Regions from separate parts of the Homo sapiens genome. Here region 2 is linked to region 1. Evidence: fine-mapped expression QTL. Tissue or cell type: whole blood. Region 1 holds a variant in brackets; the other region holds the start of a gene. All regions are shown on one strand. Distances are between the middles of the regions. Region 1 has its middle 33 kb from the start of CLDN23. Region 2 holds the start of CLDN23 (claudin 23).

Region 1 (10,356 bases):
GAGAACACCAAATAAAATACAAGGAAACAGAAAATATGAAAGAAGAGATAAGAATGGAGATCCTAGCCTGGAGTTTAATTTTGCGAATAATAGCAGTTTCAGAGGGACAAAAAGCACTTGATGAGGAAATGGTAATGTTCACATATGTATACATAAGAAAACTTCCCTGAGGCCGGGTGTGGTGGTTCATGCCTGTAATCCCAGCAATTTGGGAGGACGAGGCGGGCGGATCACCTGAGGTCAGGAGTTTGAAACTAGCCTGGCCAGTATAACAAAACCCCGTCTCTACTAAAAATACAAAAATTAGATGGGTTTGGTGGCAGGCACCTGTAATCCCAGCTACTCAGGAAGCTGAGGCATGAGAATCGCTTGAACTCGGGAGACAGACGTTGCAGTGAGCCAATATGGTGCCACTGCACTCCAGCTTGGGTGACAGAGCGAGATTCCATCTCAAAAAAAAAAAAAAAAAAAAAAGCCAGTTGCGGTGGCTCACACCTGTAATCCCAGCACTTTGGAGGCCAAGGTGGGTGGATCACCTGAGGTCAGGAGTTCAATACCAGCCTGGGCAACATGGTGAAGCCCCGTCTCTAAGAAAAATACAAAAATTAGCTGGGCAAGGTGGCAGGTGCCTATAATCCCAGCTACTCAGGAGGCTGAGGCAGGAGAATCACTTGAACCAGGGAGGTGGAGGTTGTAGTGAGCCGAGATCACGCCATTGCACTCCAGCCTGGGTGACAAGAGCAAAACTCCATCTCAAAAGAAAAAAAAAAGGAAGAAAGAAAGAAAGGAAGGAAGGGAGGGAGGGAGGGAGGGAGGGAGGGAGGAAGGAAGGAAGGAAGGAAGGAAAAACTTCCCTGAGCTGAAGAGACTTGTTTCCTGTTAGAAAGTGTTCATTAATTCCCAAGCAAAATGAATGAGATTGGATATCCTCGGCCATACATCACTGAAATTTCTGAACCCCGAGGATGGAGAAAACACAGATTGAGTATCTCTAATCCTAAATGCTTGGACCAGAAATGTTTCAGATCTCTGATCTTTTCCGATTTTGGAATATTTGCATATGCATAATGAGATATCCTGGAGATGGTACCAAGTCTAAACATGAAATTCATTTACGTTTCATATACACCTGATACACATAGCCTGAAGGTAATTTTATACATTATTTTAACAACTTTGTACTTGAAACAAACTTTCTGTACATGAGGTCAGGTGTGGAATTTTTTACTTGTGGAGTCATGTTGGTACTCAAAAAGTTTCAGATATTGGAGCCTTTCAGATTTTGCATACTCGGATTAGGGACCCTCAAGCTGTACAACATGTTAGACAGAGAAAACGAGTTCTTGAATAGGAAGAGAATCCAGGCTAGCACCAAACTTCTCATTTCAGACTTTCGATAGAAAGAAACATGGAAGTTTCTATTGATAGTCTTATTTCCCATGGGCTGAGAATCCTGTACAGATGCATCATGTTCAAATATGAGTGCAAAAGAAGACTATTTTTAGGCCAGGTGCAGTGGCTGACACCTGTAATCCCAACACTTCCGAAGGCCAAGGCAGGTGGATCACCTGAGGTCAGGAGTTCAAGACCAGCCTGGGCTACATGGCGAAAACCCATCTGTACTAAAAATACAAAAATTAGCCAGGGATGGTGGCACATGCTTCTAATCTCAACTACTTTGGAGGCTGAGGTGGGAGGATCGCTTGAATCCAGGAGCTGGAGGTTGCAGTGAGCTGAGATCATGGCACTGCATTCCAGCCTGGACAACAGAGCAAGACTCTGTCTCATTTAAAAAAAAAAAAAAAGGATATTTTTAGACTTTCAAGAATTCAGAAGTTGATCATTGTTGTACCACTACAAAGAAAATCACAAAATGCTCAAAAAGAAAGTAAAGATTAATTCAATTCTAAGATTTAATGACAGGGAAGCAAAATAAGAATACAGAATACTGGGAATGGAATATATATTCTTGTAAAAAGTACAATTTCATTAGATACTGCAAAAGTGTGTGAAGGTCACCTTCTGTCTTCCCCGCCCTGCCTGGGAGACTGACAGACATGGACTCTTCAATGAGGCCCTGTGTCCTCTGGCTACCACTGGGTTCAGACACTGAGGAGCCCCATCAGGAGTCTCAAGGAAGGGAAGAGTGAGGTCAGAGTCTTCATTCACCATCTGGCAAAGTCTCCCGGGCTGGCCATGTGCCTCTCAAGAAGGCCATTGAGCCTCTTAAGTTGACTACTCTCCACTACTCTCTCCTTCCCAATTTTGGCAGTCTCTCCCGCACTCTGTTCCATCACACTCTGGAGTGAAGTCTCTGCTGTGGCACACCTAGGCGTCTGTACTCTCCCTGTGGGTCCTACCTCATCACACAAGTGTTAATTGTTCCTTTTTGGGAGGCTGAGGCAGCCATATCACTTATGGCCAGGAGTTTGAGACCAGCCTGGCCAACATGGTGAAACCCCATCTCTACAAAAAATACAAAAATTAGCCAACATGTTGGTGTGCACCTGTAGTTCCAGCTACTTGGGAAGCTGAGGCATGAGGCTTGAGCTTGGGAGGTGGAGGTTGCAGTGAGCCGGGGTCATGCCACTGTACTTCAGCTTTGGCAATAGAGCGAGACCCTATCTCAAAAAAAAAAAAAAAAAAAAAAAAAAGAGAAAAAAGAAACAATTTTCCTATCTGACACTTTCCTACAGTTATATCCCAAATAATATAATTGTAAACTCTGAGTGATAATAAATGCTTTTGAAACAGAAAAATAAATATCTTATAAGGAAAAAATTTTAATGACCTGGAATTGGTGACATTATTACTGTAAGTGAAAAATAATCAAACTGCAAACAAACATATATTTATGTTACCTTCATGTAAGAAGAAAGAAAAATAAGAACACATACATTTCTCTACTTATCTTTATAAAAAGAAACGCAGGAAAGATAAACCAGATATCAAAGAAGTGGATTTCCTACAAGGAGTGGAGGAGAGCAGGAAATGGATAGGAGGAACCTGGGAGGGAATGATACTTTCTCTATGTGCACCTTTCGCTATGGTCATGACATGAAAGCATGTTGGTGGTGAAGGGTGGGAAGAGGGAAAGGATCAGGAAAAATAACCATTGGGTACTATACTTAGTACCTGGGTGACAAAATAATCTGTACCCCAAACCCCCATGACATGAGTTTACCTATGTAACAAACCTGCACATATACCCTTGAATCTAAAATAAAAGTTTAAAGAAATGTAAAAAGATGCATCAGCTGTTAACATCCATTCTTCGCTATGTGGTATTAGAAGGTAGAGAGATGACTAATATTTTTGTATACTCCAAGACTGACTTGAAAAAAGATTTGTTCTAATCTTGTAATATTTTTAAGCACTACAATAAAAATGAATGAAAATTTAAAAATGAATATGAGAAGAAAAACTGTTGCTCAAGTTGACCTTTGAGAGTGCTCCTGCAGTCTTTTGACATATCTTCATTAATGTTACTGTTATTGCTGTTCTTTGAGCATTTCCTCACTTTCTGATGCTACAAGATACTCCACTCTCATCTTGTTTTTTTATTTTTCTTTTTTTTTTTTTTAGATGGACTCTCACTCTGTCACCCAGGCTGAAGTGCAGTGGCGTGATCTCGGGTCACTGCGACCTCCGCCTCCCAGGTTCAAGCAATTCTCCTGCCTCAGCCTCCCAAGTGGCTGAGATTACAAGCGCCCACCACCATGCCCAGCT[T/C]TTTTGTTTGTTTGTTTGTTTGTATTTTTAGTAGCGATGGGTTTTCACCATGTTGTCCAGGCTGGTCTTGAACTCCTGACCTCAGGTGATGCACACACCTCGGCCTCCCAAAGTGCTGGGGTTACAGGCGTGGGCCATCACACCCAGCCTCCAGGCTCATCTTGTATATTTCCTGCTCAAGCCCTAGAATCAGCCATTTCTCAGGAAGCCCTAGTTCCTTTTATTGGAGAATGGGATTCGAAATCAAGATCTGGACGCAACATATGCCCATTGCACTGGCAGGTTATTGCTTACAGGCCTTCTCAGATGATAGAGCAAAGAAACATATGTGTGTATACTAACCCCTATATATACATATATCTATCAATGTTTCCATCTACAACCATCTGTATTTGTATTAAACAAAATGAATTCATACTAATGTCATGTCTGCATCTCTAATCCATTACCATATGGATCATCCTAGCATTTTCCCCTTGCTTATCTGTAACATCTCACTCCAACAGTGAGAAAACTAGCTCCCACCATCTGCCATGCATTTACTTAATGGATCAATTCCCCTGCACATGTATGGTTTACGTGTTTATTAACCTTCACCCCTGCCAGGGTTTGTTTTTTCTTTTTTTCGTATAAAGCAAACAGGAAACAAATAATAAAATGATAGACCTAAGTTTAACCATTTAAATAATTACATTAAATTATACTAATTGGTTATAATCTGAATGTTTGCATCTCCCCAAAATTAATATGTTGAGCCTCAATCACCAAAGTCATGATATTAGGAGACGGGGCCTTTGGAAGGTGATTAGGTCATGAAGACCAGAGCCCTCATGAATGGGATTAATACCCTTATAAAAGAGGTCCCAGAGAACTGCCCTGCCCCTCCCACCATGTGAGCCAGAAAGTGGGCTCTCACCAGACTTTGCATCTGCCAGCACCTGGATCTTGGACTTCCCAGCCACTAGAACTCTGAAGAATAAATTTATGTTGTTTATAAGCCACCTAGTTTATGGTGTTTTGTTATAAAAACCCAGCAGACTAAGATGTGATCTAAACAAACTAATTAAAAGACAGAAATTTATAAACATGCATTTTACAAAAAGACCCAACTATATGCCTTCTGTAAGTAATCCACTTTAAATGCAATGACATTGATATTTTAAAATGTGATAAATGTAATGAAAGGATGGAAAGCATACATTATGCAAATACTAATTAAAAGAAAGCTAGAATGGCTACATTCACATCAGATAAATATCAGAAACAATTAAAATTATCAGGGACACAACCTGCGTAGGGGATCAAAATTAACATGGTTCATGAAGGGCAGTGGATGCTGCATGCCTCCAGATAGAATGTCCTGAAGAAGACACAAAATCCCTTCATGAGAATGTGTAACCTGAATCTAATCACAATAGAATCATCAGAAAAATGCAAACGAAACAACATTCTGTTTTTAAAATGTCAGAGGGGAATGTATGCCTAAAAACTATTGATGTCATAAAAGACTAAGAAAGGCTGTGGGGAGTTGCAGGTCAAAGGAGGCTAAAGAGACATGCCAACTAAATGTGATATTTAACCCTGGCCTGGATCCTCCCTGGAGAGCAGTGAGGAGTCCTGTGAAAGACATTATTAGGTCAACCAACAAGACATGAATATGGGCCATAGATTAGATAAAAATATGACATTAATAGAAATTTATGAAATCTGTAACTATACTATGGATATGTAAGAGAATGTCACTCTTCTTAGGAAGTACACACTGAAGTGTTTAGGGATAACAGCCATGATATACGTACCTTACCCTCAAATGGTTCTGAAAATAATCACACACATGTGTATGTGTGTGTGCGTGTGTGTGTGTACAGAGAGAAAGCAAATGAATAGAGCAAATGTTATAACATATTAATAACAGGTAAATCTGAGTAAAGGGCATTACCAGTATTCTTTGTACTATTGTATTTTACTAATTATAAAGTGTTTTCAAAAATGTTATAAAAATTGACCAGGTGTGGTGGCTCACACCAGTAATCCTAACACTTTGGGAGGCTGAGGTGGGTGGATCTCTTGAGGCCAGGAGTTCAAGACCAGCCTGGCCAGCATGGTGAAACCCCATCTCTACTAAAAATACAAAAGTTAGCCAGGTGTGGTGGTGTGCGCCTGTAATCCCAGCTACTCTGGAGGCTGAGGCAGGAGAATTACTTGAACCCGGGAGGTAGAAGCTGCAGTGAGCCGAGATCGTGCCACTGCACTCCAACCTGGGCGACAGAGCAAGACTCCATCTCAAAAAAGAAAAAAGTTATAAAAATTATCCATAACTCAATTCTTAACTTCATTAATAAAATATAGAGGTTAGGAATGGGAGACCCATGGGGAAAGTGAATGTCTTCTCAATGTCGTAGTTGGTGGGGAATAGGAATGATGATGAATCTTTAGAGAGTCAGAGTGACTATTTTAGTATAGTCACATATTCACAGAGACTTCTAACCCTATGAGTTAAAATACAGAAGATATATAGTAAAATTTGTATTGCTTTATATTTTAGAAGGACACAGAGAGTTTTTTAAATTAATGTCCTGATTAATCTGGAAGAAATGTGAAAAGGAGAAAAGCATGAACAACAATAGGTATAATAAATAGTAAAATGCAAAGTAATAAGAAGATGTGAAATCAAATCCATGAGATACAGGGAGAAATGTGAACGGATTGAACACCAGTATTAGATGATAAGGACTCTCAGAACGGATTAAGACATAATACCAAACTATATGCTTCCTACAAGACACACATGTAAAACTTTTGACAGAAAATTTGAAACTTAAGGGATAGGCAGAGATACCAAGCACAGGCAAACCAAATAATTTAAATAAAATGAAATTCAAAAGCAGTGACTTTGCTATCAGCTGTAGGAGAGCCACATGAGTTTGCAGGTGATGAGAAATCATTTGATACCTCCCTATTTTCTTTCTACCCCGAGGAGGGTGTGCCACGTTTCCTTAACAACCCAGTCCACCCCTTTGTTCCAGCATAAATGGCATTAATGATGGTTTCATTGGTCATCATCTGGGGGCGGTCTCTCACTAACAGCCTAATTTCCTATTGCCGAGAAGACGGTTCTGATTTTTTTTTTAACGTATAGAAACGTGCATACGTGATTTTTCTGAAGTTTGTTCTAATGATCTGAGACATCTCTACTCACCCTGGAGAAAAGACTACAGCTGTGAATGGTGTGTTGACGCCACTAAAATTACAGCTGCTTACAGCTTCCAGGTCTTTTCCATAAACCACTAAAAGCAGAACCCTCTAGGATACACCTGGAGCTTTGTGGGCTGGCTTTCCAAGTCTGAGTTTTTGCTGCCACCTACAGGCTCAATCTGGGCAGCACACTTTGCCCTTAATGCCACTTTTGACTCATACCAAAAGGTCCCTTAAATAGCGTCTACGTTGCAAATTGCCCAAGGAACCAAAGTAAGTATCCAGCCTCCATGAATATGGCAAGTATCCCCAGACAGGAGCTACAGGGACACGTCCTCTACATATAAGGGACAGCGGTAAAGCAATTAATTCTCACCAGGAATATCTTCCCTTGCCGGACCCTGAGATGACCACTGAGCATGGAATCCCAGAATCATGCCATCTTTCCAGCCTGGAAATTCATCACTTCTCACTGCAAACACCCACATTTATTCCATGCATCCTATGTGCCCGGCATCTTCCCCATGCATTATCTCATTTATTATTCACAACAATACTATGAGATAATAACTCTCATCACCTCTTTTTACAGACAAGGAAACAAACCGAGTTTCAGAGAAACCAAATAACTTGTCCAAAAAATACAACTAGTAAATGATAGATTCTGGGATTAAACCCAAATCTTGCAGTTCAAACTCAACAACTCTTCAGAGTGTGACATCCTTGATTTATTCATGGAAAAATCAACCCCATTGCCGAGCAACTTGAACAACCTTCCTTGAAGAAGGGTAAAATGTGTTACTTTCATGCTGTATTTTCCTGTTGGTATCAATGTCCAACTCCCAAAAAATCTACAGCAACTGACCACATGAAACTACTAAATTCTTCGGAAGAAAAATTAGTAAGTGCCCATACTAAATGGCCACAATAGCTTCAATGAGCTCTTCTTCTTGGTAAAGATACTTCCATTCGTTCATTCATTCATTCATTTATTCCAACATGCTCCTGCAAGCCACCCAAACCATATCAAGATACAATAGAGTACCTGCATCCACAGGGACATAAGGGGAACCCGGGGTGTGCTGTGGGTATGATGTCACCTAACAGCACTAATCTGAAGTCAGTTTCTGTTTTTTCTTCTTCAGAATCCTTTTTCACAAAAACTACAAAGAATTTACCCACAGGCAATGAAAGCCTTTCTTTTCATTGTTCTTTCTATTTCTTTCAAGTTTATGTTTTCAATTTCATTTAAATAATGTAACTTTAAATGCATTAATTTGATTGTATTATACATCACTGAGGGAAGGTTCAGGGCAGTTTTTTTTTTTTTCTTTTCCTTTGCTTGTCTTCACCCTGTCTTTGTTTTTTCTTCACATTCCTCTCAGTAATCCCCACTTATCAAGTTAAAACATATAATAAACATTATGCTTTGTACTACATGTTTACATATCCCTGTAGAGACATATAAATACGTACACATTTGGAGAGGAAAGCCCCTCCCCAAATCCACTTTATGTGTGTACCCATACAATTTTCAAGGCTATTGTTTGATAAAATCTCTTGGCCACTCAGAATCCATAGACTAAAATCCAGGTGCAGTGGTTCACGCCTGTAGTCCCAGCTACTCGAGAGGCTGAGGCAGGAGGATTGCTTGAGCCCAGGAGTTCAAGGCTGCAGTGAGCCATGATCATGCCTGGGAATAGCCACTGCACTCAACCTGAGCAACATAACATTGCCCATTCACTACGATGTTGTCTGTGAGTTTGTCATAAATGGACGGCTCTCAATATTTTGAGGTATATTCCTTTGATGCCTAGTGAACTCCCAGACTCCACAGACTCAGCTAAAAGGATTCAGAGCCCTCTTACTTCAACCTCTGCCTCATGGCAAGTGATTGAATAAGCCTCTAAGTCAGATTATTCTCCCTTAAAGATCTTCCAGATCAAAGACGTAGTGATGACCCTAGGCAGGTAAAAAACATTTCTGTGTTTTGTCTTCTAGGGTAGGTAAAAAGATGTTTTCTTAAGTCCAAATAATATATCTCCAGCTTCTATATAAAGTGATTTTACAGATTAAATAAATCCTTATTGGATCATCTGTTCCTAAAATTATTAAAAGTTAATTGAGGAAACAAAACCTACCCTAAAAGAGAAAGTCAATGATGATTCCAAGGAGTGGATAAGAGTGTAATTTCCAAGGCCAGGTGCAGTAGCTCACACCTGTAATCCCAGCACTTTGGGAGGCCAAGGTGGGCAGATCACTTGAGGTCAGGTGTTCGTGACCAGCCTGGCCCACAGAGTTAAACCCCATCTTTATTAAAAATACAAAAATTAGCCAGGCGTGGTGGCAGGTGCCTGTAATCCCAGCTACTCGGGAGGCTAAGGCAGGAGAATCGCTTGAACCTGGGAGGTGGAGGTTTCGGAGAGCCAAGATCATGCCACTGCACTCCAGCCTCAGTGACAGAGCAGACTATCTCAAAAAAAAAAAAAAAAAAACAAAGTATAATTTCTGAAGTGTGATCAAGTATATTCAAATTCCAGCTTCACACTTACATGCTGTATGGCATTTAGCAAACCAGTTAATCTTTCTGTGCATTGTTTCTATATCATAGACTTCTAAGAATTGAGGTAATACATGCAAAGCACAGAGCAAAAGCCAAGGCTCTGGTATGAGTAATAGATTTTAGAAAAATGCTGCTGACCCAGTTTTCAACCCCAGAAGAGATGATTCCCTTGGCTTGACGGATAGAAGCAGAGGACATGATAAAAAAAAAAAAAAGCCCTCCACAAACTGGATATCAAAGGAATATACTTCAAAATAATAAGAGCCATCCATCTATGACAAACCCACAGCCAGCATCACAGTGAATGGGCAAAAGCTGGAGGCATTCCTTTTAAGAACAGGTACAAGATAGAGTTGCCTACTCTCACCACTCCTATTAAATATAGTACTGGAATTTCTATCCAGAGCAATCAGGCAAGAGAAAGACATAAAAGGCATCCAAACAAGAAAATAAGTCAAATTATCTCTCTTCATAGATTTAATGATTCTATACCTAGAAAAGCCTGAAGACTCCACCAAAAGGCTCCTAGAACCAATAAACAACCTCGGTAAAGTCTCAGGATACAAAATTAATGTGCAAAAATTCAGTAGCATTTCTATACACCAATAACATTCAAGCTGAGATCCAAATCAAGAACACAATCCCATTTATAGTAGCCACCAAAAAAACAAAATACCTAGGAATACATCTAACCAAGGAGGTAAAAAATCTCTACAAGGAGAACTACAAAATACTGCTGAAAGACATCATAGATGACACAAACAAATGGAAAAACATTCTATGATCATGGATTGAAGGAATCAATATCATAAAAATGGCCATACTGCCCAAAGAAATTTACAGATTCAGTACTATTCCTATCAAATTAT
Region 2 (10,689 bases), 33 kb before region 1:
AAAGAGTTCTGCCAGTTGGTTGCACAACAAGGTGAATGAACCTAAGACTACTGACCTTTACCTAGGTGACCTGTACATGTAACATGTTTAAGATGGTAAACTTTATGTGGATGTTACTATAATTTTTTAAAAAGCGATGTATGCTACATTCTTCTATTGTGTTACTATGCAGGAACTTTACAAAAATTCTTTCATTTATTTAATAGATTTGTACTGAGTACCACTAAGAGCTAGGCACTATTCCAGCAGCTGAGATATAGCCACAAGCAACATCTCTAGTCTTTGAAACTTACAATGCGGTGTAGGAAACAATATAGATAAGTCAGTACACACATATTAGAAAACACGTGGCAGTGATAAATTCTATAAACAGAACAAATTAGAGGGAAGTGATACTGAGCTAACAAGAGGGCTATTTCACACTCGATGTGAAAAGTTATTGATTTATTTTCTACAATATTAGGCACTCACAGTTGGTAAAACAGCTGTTGGACTACTGGCCAAAAAGAAAAACTAATACAATATTGAAGGGGCTTTGTTCAATTCAGGCTGTTTTAATGCTATTTAAAAATAAAGATCATAGTTTAAGTTTTTTCATAGTCTAATTTTTATTCTATAACTCACTGAAGTAGATTTACCATAGGATGATTATCAGTGGAGTTCATTTCTCACTCCTATTCAGAATTCTCATAGTATAACATTGTGAACAAAATTGTCTTATCGCTTAGCAAACACAGGAAAGGGTGTTCAGAGTTCCAGGAAGAAAAAGAGAAAATAGCCTTTGGAGAAAGTAAAATAAAGACCTGGCAGAGGGAATCTGAGGACATCTTATTATGGCAAAGTGATCTAGTGCAGGGGTCCCCAACCCCTGGGCCACCAACCAGTACCAGTCTGTGGCCTGTCAGGAACTGGGCCACACAGTAGGAGATGAGCCATGGGCGAGCAAGCATTACTGCCTGAGCTCCACCTCCTGTCAGATCAGTGGTGGCTTTAGATTCTCATGGGAGTGTGAACCCCATTGTAACCCGCACATGCGAGGGATCTAGGTTGCCTGATCATCCAAGATGGAACAGTTTCATCCCGAAACCATCTTTACCCCCACAACCCCATGGAAAAATTACCTTCCATGAAACCTGTCCCTGGTGCCAAAGAGTTTGAGGACTGATGATCTAGTGGACCCTCTGTCCTAGCCAAAGTTGGTAATGTGACTTTCCAAGATGAAGCTGTTGCAGGTTGCACCTTTGTGCGAGGTGGTAGCAGAGGCCTAGAGTGCAGGCAAACAGGGGACTCAGCATCAGTCCCTTCAGAATTCACTGCTGGGGGCTCACTATTCATTTCAAAAGCTGCAGCATAGTGAACAGATTCTTGCATTACTACCGGGCCCTTCTTCAGAAAAGAAATCTGTGGTAGAACCTGGGTATCCACTTACACAGCCAGGTCCTAATGTCAGCAATCATTCATTCATTCCTACCACAGAGTGACTCATGCTTTATTTCTCCCTCAGACTTCAGATGAACTCAGAAGGCCAGGGAACAGAGGTCAGCTCTATCCCCAGATGCTATGCTTAACACAGTCACTTCTTTCTCTATTGTCGCAGAAAGTGAGCCCCACAGGCCTACGCTTATTTGTCGTAAATATCTGGAGCTATCCCATACTCGTATGGGATAGATTGTTTTCTATGCTAAGGAAAAAGAAACATTCAAACAAATCAACCTGCTTACTGAGATGTATGTCACAATCTGTTTTGGCCAGACGGTCATTTGTTGGAAAATTCAGTAGGTACTATGTGGAAGAACTCAGGGCAGAAAGACATAATATTGATTTGTTGAGTGGCTGCGGTGGCCCAGGCACCAAGATGTGTTTGGAGGACAGAACAGAACAAGATCTATGTGGTCCCTGCCCTCAGAGAACTCCCAGACCAGCTAGAAAACAAAATGATTCAAGGACTAAGGAACTGTGGTAAGTGGTGTGACAGAAGGGGTGTCACGGAAGTATATGAAAGGAAAAATTAATTAACTTCATCTAGGGGATGAGGAAACCCTCCCAGAGAAAATGGCACTTAAGCAAAGATCTAAGGATGCACTGGAGTGGGGAAGTGATAGGCAGGGCACTAGGAAAAGAGAAGGGCATTTGCAAAGGTCTGGAAGCAAAAGGGCACACAATGTTCGGGGAAAATGTGGGGGGAAATCCAGTTTCTTTGGGTTATAATGTGAGGAGATGAGGCGGCAGGGAGGGAGAGACAGGGCTGGAATGCAGGGCTGGGTGGGACTGGGAATGGTCTTGTAAAGGGTTGATGCAGGCCAGCTGTGAGGTTCGTGTGGCTAATAAAAAGGGAGCCACAAAGCCCGGTGTAGGAGACCAGTTAGCAGCTTAAGGAGAAAGATGGGAGAATGGCCTGTACTGGGAAGAGGCAGTAGAGAAGAAAGAGACATGGAAGGACGAAAGACAGATTTAGGAGGTAGAACCCCCAGGATGCCCTTCCTCCCCACAGGTAAATAACACCTGGGCTTCACTCATTCCACAGAGATCTAAGCAAAAACGAAACTATGTTGGAAGAGGATTCAAATCACATGAAGCATTTATGAAGTGGCAGTGTCACACATGATACCTTCTGACATGTATGAGAGGGATGGCAGACTGATTCCTGCTTTAGATAGTTAATCACCACACAGTTAATGAAACAAGACAAATTTTAAATGATGCATAGGCCAGGCACAGTGGCTCACACCTGTAATCTCAGCACTTTGGGAAGCCAAGGTTGGCAGATGAGTTGAGGTCAGGAGTTCGAGACCAGCCTGAGCAACAAGGTAAAATCCCGTCTCTACTAAAAATACAAAAATTATCTGGGCATGGTGGTGGGTGCCTATAATCCCAGCTACTAGGTAGGCTGAGGCAGGAGAACTGCTTGCTTGAACCCAGGAACCAGAGGTTGCAGTGGGCCGAGATTTTGCCGTCACACTCTAGGCTGGGCAGCAGAGCAAGACTCCATCTCAAAAAAAATTTTTTTAATTAAAAAAAATTAAAAGTGATGTATATATCACTATTACATAAATGATGCAACAGCATTATTCACAATAGCCAAAAGGTAAAAGCAATCTAAGTGTCTATGGATGGAAGACTGGATAAACAAAATGTGGTATTTATGCACAATAGAATATCATTCAACCTTCAAAAGGAAGGACATTCTGACACATGCTACAATATGGATGAACCTGGAGGACATTAAGCTCAGTGAAATAAGCCAGTCACGAAAGGACAAATACGGTCCGATTCCAGTTCTATGAGGTACCTAAAGTAGTTAAATTTATAGAGAGAAAAAAGTAGAATGGTGATCACCAGGGCCTGTGAGGGAGGGAGGAAAGGAGAGTTAGTGTTTAGTGGGTACAGTGTCAGTTTGGGAAGAGGAAAAAATCCCAGGAGTGGATGGTGGTGAGGGTATCACAACAATGTGAATGTATGTCATACCAATGAGCTGTACACTTAAAGATGGTTACAACGGTCAACTGTATGTTACATATATGTTACCACAGGTTTTTTTTTTAATTTAAAAATATTCTTTTAAAAAAAGCAGTCACTGTCATTCCTAGTGTTGTCCACTCTGGAATATTCAAAATTATTTCAAACCAATGCTAAATTAACTTGAATTTTAAAAATAGTTTTAATTTTAAACAATTATAAAGGCAATACGTTTTCATTGTAAAAATCTAGAAAATACAAAAAAGTGTTATTAAAGGATAATTTTTAGAAAAAATGTAAACATCGTGACTTTCACACAAATATAAAATGAATATGTGTGAAAGAGGTTATTTAACTCATTATTGAATAAGGAAACCAGTATGATGTTAAAACCAAAGAAGCTGGCCACTTGCCTGCAGTCCTAGCTACTCCAGAGGCTGAGGCGGGAGACTCACCTGAGCCCAGGAGTTTGCAACCAGCCTGGGCAACACAGCGAAACTCCCCAACCCTGTTTAAAATAAATAAATAAATAAATAAATAAATAAATAAATAAAAGAAAAAGGAAAAAAAAAAAGCAAAGAACAAAAGGACACACATATACAGACAAACAGGAATGCTAAAATGAATTTACAAATCAATGCCATACTGGTCAGTATCCATTGGACAATAATCATTCCACTGGGACGAACTCATTAGCCTTGATGTTGGCAAAAGTCATTTGCAATACTACAGGCTTTCTATAATTTATAGAGTTGTAAAATAACCTACAGACGAGAAAGGCCACAGTACACTGTAAAATTAAATAAACCTGCAAAAAACGCTAAGCAGGACATCCGGGAACACTGGTCCCTCTTTCTAGTCCCCTTGAAAGTCTCACAAGGCTGAAAAAGGAAAGTAAAATCCTTGTGTAACCCTTCTGCCCAGAAGTACACTGGCACAGATTCTTTAGAGACGAATTTAATCCAGAGTGTGGAGCCTTTATTAAGGAAATAATCCGGTGCAACGTTCTGGGACACGCTCCTGGACTGGGTGGGCTTCTGCACACTCACCCAGCGCACCTCCAATCCCCGGGAGCGCTCGGCACCGCCCACTTCTCTGCGAGTGGCTGCAAGTTGCAGAGCAAACCAGGGGGCGATCTGGAACCCTCTGGGAGTAAAGGGCTAAGCTATAAGCGCAGGGTCGACGGGCAGGGACCGGAAACAAATTCTAGGAACCGAGATCCGCTGAGCAGCAGGGAAGCTGCGCAGCCACCGCGTCCCGCCAGCGCCGCCTCTTTCCCTCCCCGCCCACCGCCCGCCTGGCCCGGCGGGGCGGCGCGAGGACCCAGGGGCGGGGCGACCTTTGCTCCGGCCGTGAGCAGTCCAGGCCAGGCGTGGCCCAGCCGCCCGGCTGCAAGGTGGGGTGTCCCCGCCGCTCGGATCCCCATCTCACCTGCCGCGGGCGAGGTGGCCCCGCCGCTTCCTGCGCTCACCTCGGGTCCCTCCCTCCCGGGCCAGGTTTGGCCGCGGCAGCCGCCCCTGGGCGCCCGCGCCCGGACCCGCGGTTTCGGTCAGACCCGCCCGCGGGCTGGTTTCGATTAGGGCCAGTAGGAGGGCGGAGCGGCCGGGACGCCAGGAGGGAACTAGCCTAAGTGGGGACGGTCCCCGTGCAGGAGACAAAGAGCGTCCCTGGAGCGATCAGGGCTCAGGAGCCCGACCCGGAGCCCGGGGCGTCCGCGCTGACTTCGGGTCCCCGGAGCCTGGGGCACGGCAGGGAGAAGACGACGGCGGAGAAGGCGACAGCGGAGAAGGAAGGCAGGCTGCAGGGGCGCCGTCGGCGCGGCGGGCCGGGATGCGGACGCCGGTGGTGATGACGCTGGGCATGGTGTTGGCGCCCTGCGGGCTCCTGCTCAACCTGACCGGCACCCTGGCGCCCGGCTGGCGGCTGGTGAAGGGCTTCCTGAACCAGCCAGTGGACGTGGAGTTGTACCAGGGCCTGTGGGACATGTGTCGCGAGCAGAGCAGCCGCGAGCGCGAGTGCGGCCAGACGGACCAGTGGGGCTACTTCGAGGCCCAGCCCGTGCTGGTGGCGCGGGCACTCATGGTCACCTCGCTGGCCGCCACGGTCCTGGGGCTTCTGCTGGCGTCGCTGGGCGTGCGCTGCTGGCAGGACGAGCCCAACTTCGTGCTGGCAGGGCTCTCGGGCGTCGTGCTCTTCGTCGCTGGCCTCCTCGGCCTCATCCCGGTGTCCTGGTACAACCACTTCTTGGGGGACCGCGACGTGCTGCCCGCCCCGGCCAGCCCGGTCACGGTGCAGGTCAGCTACAGCCTGGTCCTGGGCTACCTGGGCAGCTGCCTCCTGCTGCTGGGCGGCTTCTCGCTGGCGCTCAGCTTCGCGCCCTGGTGCGACGAGCGTTGTCGCCGCCGCCGCAAGGGACCCTCCGCCGGGCCTCGCCGCAGCAGCGTCAGCACCATCCAAGTGGAGTGGCCCGAGCCCGACCTGGCGCCCGCCATCAAGTACTACAGCGACGGCCAGCACCGACCGCCGCCTGCCCAGCACCGCAAGCCCAAGCCCAAGCCCAAGGTCGGCTTCCCCATGCCGCGGCCGCGGCCCAAGGCCTACACCAACTCGGTGGACGTCCTCGACGGGGAGGGGTGGGAGTCCCAGGACGCTCCCTCGTGCAGCACCCACCCCTGCGACAGCTCGCTGCCCTGCGACTCCGACCTCTAGACGCTTGTAGAGCCTGGGGGGCGCCGGGTGGCAAAGGACTCACCCCCGCACAGGCCCGCCTGGCTTCGAGTTGGAACCCGGACACTTGCCCCTCACTGGTGTGGATGGAAATCTGCCTTTCGTGGGACCAAACAGGACTCCTTGGACGATTAGTTCAGGTTGGGTTTGGTTTTCTTCTTAAAGAGTTTAGTTTTCCTCTCCAGAGGGATCAGGGTCCTCTTAGGGAGTGACGGGCTTTTCATATATTTTTGCTGAAGAATATATGGAAAGGGTGGCATTTGCGTCACGTGGACCAGGGACAGTGCTGAAATCAGCAGTGCTCAGAAACAATTTAACATGTTGAAACGACAATATTCTAAAATACTGATGAATCTTGCATCAATATAATTATTGGGTTTTTTTTCTTTTTCCTGCTGTATAACTCCTTGCCATGCAAACTCTCAAGAGGCCAATATATTCCTGGCCATGTTTGAATGAGCCTCTTAAAATAAACTTAGAGCCATGCAAATGCCAGCAGCTTAATGGATTTCATGGAATGAAATACCGTGATTAACTCATAGCTACATATCATTGCATAAATGGGATTTATCTTTTTTCTCACTTATTTTTGCGGTGAAAGTCGAGGGCATGCAAGAGTTTCTCTTCCAGAAGCCAAGAGGAGAACAAAGGTCCTAATGCTGTACTATTCCACCCTTTGGACGCCTCATCCAGGACGCAGAGGACTCTAGGTTTAACATTTTGTACAAAATGGAACCTGTTAATCATATTAAAGCACATATGTATATATCTTTTATTTATAAATAAAATTTTAAAACAATAGTTTCAGTATAGCCACAAAAGCTCTTTTGTCTTCAGTACAACGTTTGGGAGTTTAAACATTCATTACTAACAATTTCCTGGCTGCCTCGGCACTTGTGTCTGAAATCTAGCACTCAAATCTTTGCACCTCTTAGCATAAGGTTACTAAAAAAAGCCAACGGGCCCCACTTAAGTCCCTGATTGCTTTGGTTTTAGGTTCATGCCATTTCTGTGCAAAGCCAAGTCTATTGCTGAGAAAACGAGAAGCACCAGTTTCCACTTGAGGTGAGACTGGAAATCTTTTCCTTTGTAGCAGTGGTGTTTAGAATCACAGGAAGGCAGCTATGTGTTCCATGAAGGGGACTGGGTCTCCAGCAGGGCTGGCTTCAATTCCAAGTGGTTGATTTAAGGGTACCTTTAACCGAACTGAATCTCTTCTTTAAAACCTGCCGTTCAGAGGTAGGAACATTCATTCAGTTCAGCAAGCACTGATAATAGCTATAGTGAGGCTAACTTAATAGCACATGCTGCCTGTTAGAGTGGAAGGGATGACAGAGATTCACTTCCCTTGCCATTTGGTACTGGAATCACTTCTTTCTCTCTTTCTGAAGCCAGGCTTTAACGTGTAGGCGGTATCACTTTGGAATCTCTTTCAAATGCAGATTCTGATTCAGTAGATCTGGAGTGAGGCCCTGAAAAGATTTCCTAACTGGCTTCCAGGAGATGCCAATGCTGCCGGCTCATGGACCACACTTGGAGTTGCAAGGCTTTCGCTGGGACTGTCTCACTCAAATTTCAATCCCAACTGGTGGCTCATATTCAGACCTTTGAGTGCCTGCTACCGAGATGCGCTTGGGGACTTGCTCGAGGGTACAGAGCCAAAAGGGAGAAAGTGCAACAGGGCTCTTTTCCACTAACACCTCCGAAGGCAGCAATTAGGGACCTGAGAAGTCAGCACCTAGCAGACACCGTACAGGTACTGGGCTCCTGGCAAATGGTGAGTCTGGGCTGCATCATAATTCTATCTCCAGGGAAGCTTTGGTAAAAACACACAAAACTTTTGTGTGTTTTGCTTTTCTCCCCATCCCAATGATTCTCCACTGCCTTATATGCAAAACATTTCCTGCCTGAGGATTAGGATTCGGTTGCTGGGAGTTAAAACTCTACTTTTCCCCTATCAAGAGAACGAAGCCAAAACTCCTCCTTTAAAAATACAAACTCCTTTTTGCTATAGAAATATTCAAGACAGCCTGTAATCCCAGTGCTTTGGGAGGCCAAGTGGAAGGAATGCTTTGAGGCCAGGAGTTCGAGACCAGCCTGGGCAACATAGCTAGACCCCATGTCTACAAAAAAATTTTTAAAAGTTAGTCAGGCATAGTGGCAACATGTCTAGAGTCCTAGCTACTTAGGAGGCTGAGGCAGCAGGATCACTTGAGCCCAGGAGTTCAAGGCAGTAGTGAACTAAAAGCACATCACTGCATTCCAGCCTGGGCAACAGAGCGAGACTGTCTCTTAAATTAAAAAAAAAAAAAAAAAAAAAAAAAAAAAAAAACGGGCATGATGGCTCATGCCTGTAACCCCAGCACTTTGGGAGGCCGAGGTGGGCCCATCACGAGGTCAGGAAATCGAGACCATCCTGGCTAACATGGTGAAACCCCGTCTCTACTAAAAATACAAAAAATTAGCCGGGCATGGTGGCGTGCGCCTGTAGTCCCAGCTACTCGGGAGGCTGAGGCAGGAGAATGGCGTGAACCCGGGAGGCGGAGCTTGCAGTGAACCGAGATGGTGCCACTGCACTCCAGCCTGGGTGACAGAGCGAGACTCTGTCTCAAAGAAAAAAAAAAAAAAAAGGTTCAGGAGAGCATGGAAAGAGAGTCCTGCATCAGTCTGGGATCCACGTTTGCCCTGCGGGTCATTCTCTGCCACAGCAAGTCTCAGGAGTTGCTGCTGTGGGCAAGAATTTATCCTAAACTTTTCCTAAACTTACCACTGACCAGCCCAGCAACTGCACCACAGAGAACACACTCAAAGCACTTCTGTCTTGTATCAAGCCCTCTGACCTACCAGACTCATGTTTAATCCTCCCAATCCCCAAAGGAAGTATAAGTCCCCATTGAATGGATGAAGTCTTTTCTAGATTACTCAAGTGATGCCAGGAGGACGGTGAGTTCTGTGAAGGTAAGGCAGAAACTGCTTTAACACATCCCTGCTCTACCCGTTCGCCAATCTGGCTCTTATCTGGACACACGCCCTCACCAAGGAGGGGTGTGGCTTTGAGCACACAGCTGGTTCTCCACCGTGGAGGCTGCGGGAGGTGCTGTCAGGGTGCTTTGGCAACCATCCTTCCCTTCATTGTGTAGATCGTTCACCCAGTATGTTTTTGAGCGTCTGACATTTTGCCAGCACATTTGTGGGCACCATGAAAAACAATACCATCCAGGCCCATTCTGTGTGGAACTTAAATAATCTCCTGTGATCATGTACAAATAAAATGAAAAAGATTAAGCCAGAAATCAAGGGATGGAGGAAGAAAGGTGTTTTTTGTTTTTGTTTTGTTTTTGGGAGACAGGGTCTCACTCTGTCACCCAGGCTAAAGTGCAGTGACATGATCAGGGCTCACTGCAGCCTCAACCTCCCAACCTCAGTGGATCCTCCAGCCTCAGCCTTCCAAGTAGCTGGGACCACAGATATGCATCACATCACCCAGCTAATTTTTTTTTTTTTTAAACAGACAGAATCTCACTATGTCACCCAGGCTGGTCTCGAACTCCTGAGCTCAAGTGATCCTCTCACCTTGGCCTCCCAAAGTGCTGGAATTAGAGGTGAAAGCTCCCACACCTGGCCAAAGGTGATATTTTAGGAAAAGTGGTCAAGAAGAAGGAGGTACTTGGGCAGAGAACTGAAAGAAGAGAGAGAGGAGCCTTTTAGGCAGAAGGAACAACTTCAAGTTTCCACTAGAGAAAATGTGAAAACAGGTGGGCGTCTCAGTCTTACTACCAGCTAGTTTTGCTTCTCTTTCTAGAATCGGGTGGTAAGGCCAAGAAGCAGCTGGTGGTACAACGGAGTAACCCTGAGTCAACCTTGTCATCTACTCTTTGCCAGGCTAACAGATTCTTTCAGAGGGAATACCATCTGGAACAAATTCACCCTGTCTTCTAGAATATTTCCATAAGCAGACAGGGAGGGTCTCTGGGGATTCTAGGAATTTAATCAACTTGAGCAATCAGCCTGTTTTGCAGCCTCGTGCCCTGCAGTCTGTTTCTTCCTAGACCCTGCGTGGTCACCCAGCAGGTTAAAGCAGCTCCTGACAGGCCCCAACAACTTTTAGATGAATTCGGTGAACTTTCCTCATGGCCATTCTATAGTCTCCACCCCAGGGGAAGAGCAGCTTCAGCAGCAACCACATGCGACCTATGTGCTGGCATGAGGACTCACTGCATTGGTGCCACTGGGACCCCTCCTCGGCATGCGACGCAGTCCCTCCTGTCTCCATTACCCCTTAAAACCCTCCTGTCACATTCCCTCTGGGAGACACTGCTTTGGAGAATAATCCCAGTGCCCCTCTTCCTTGTGCCAAGTAATAAAACTCCTATTGATCACACACCTGCGTTCTCAAGGAGCGTGGTTTGTTATTCATCGGACCAACAAACCCTGATTTTGGGGGGGTAACATTTCCAGAATCAAAAATAAGCAATTTCTTTTTTTTTTTTTTTTTTTTTTTGACAG

The links.
Region 2: it holds the start of CLDN23, and the variant in region 1 is fine-mapped to the expression of CLDN23 in whole blood (TOPMed, PIP above 0.99).

What each region holds. Positions count from the first base shown.
Region 1 is chr8:8,730,001-8,740,356 of GRCh38, forward strand. No RefSeq gene overlaps it. Among named protein-coding and RNA genes, the nearest start is that of CLDN23, 33 kb to the left of the region's middle. RefSeq lists an enhancer at 6,500-7,001. The variant T/C (reference allele first, on the strand shown) is at 3,730.
Region 2 is chr8:8,697,113-8,707,801 of GRCh38, forward strand. CLDN23 (claudin 23) reads left to right here and starts at 4,825. Exons shown (of 1, transcript NM_194284.3): 1 at 4,825-6,984. The coding sequence starts at 5,287. The coding sequence ends at 6,165. RefSeq lists a silencer at 4,558-5,177 and an enhancer at 4,651-5,618.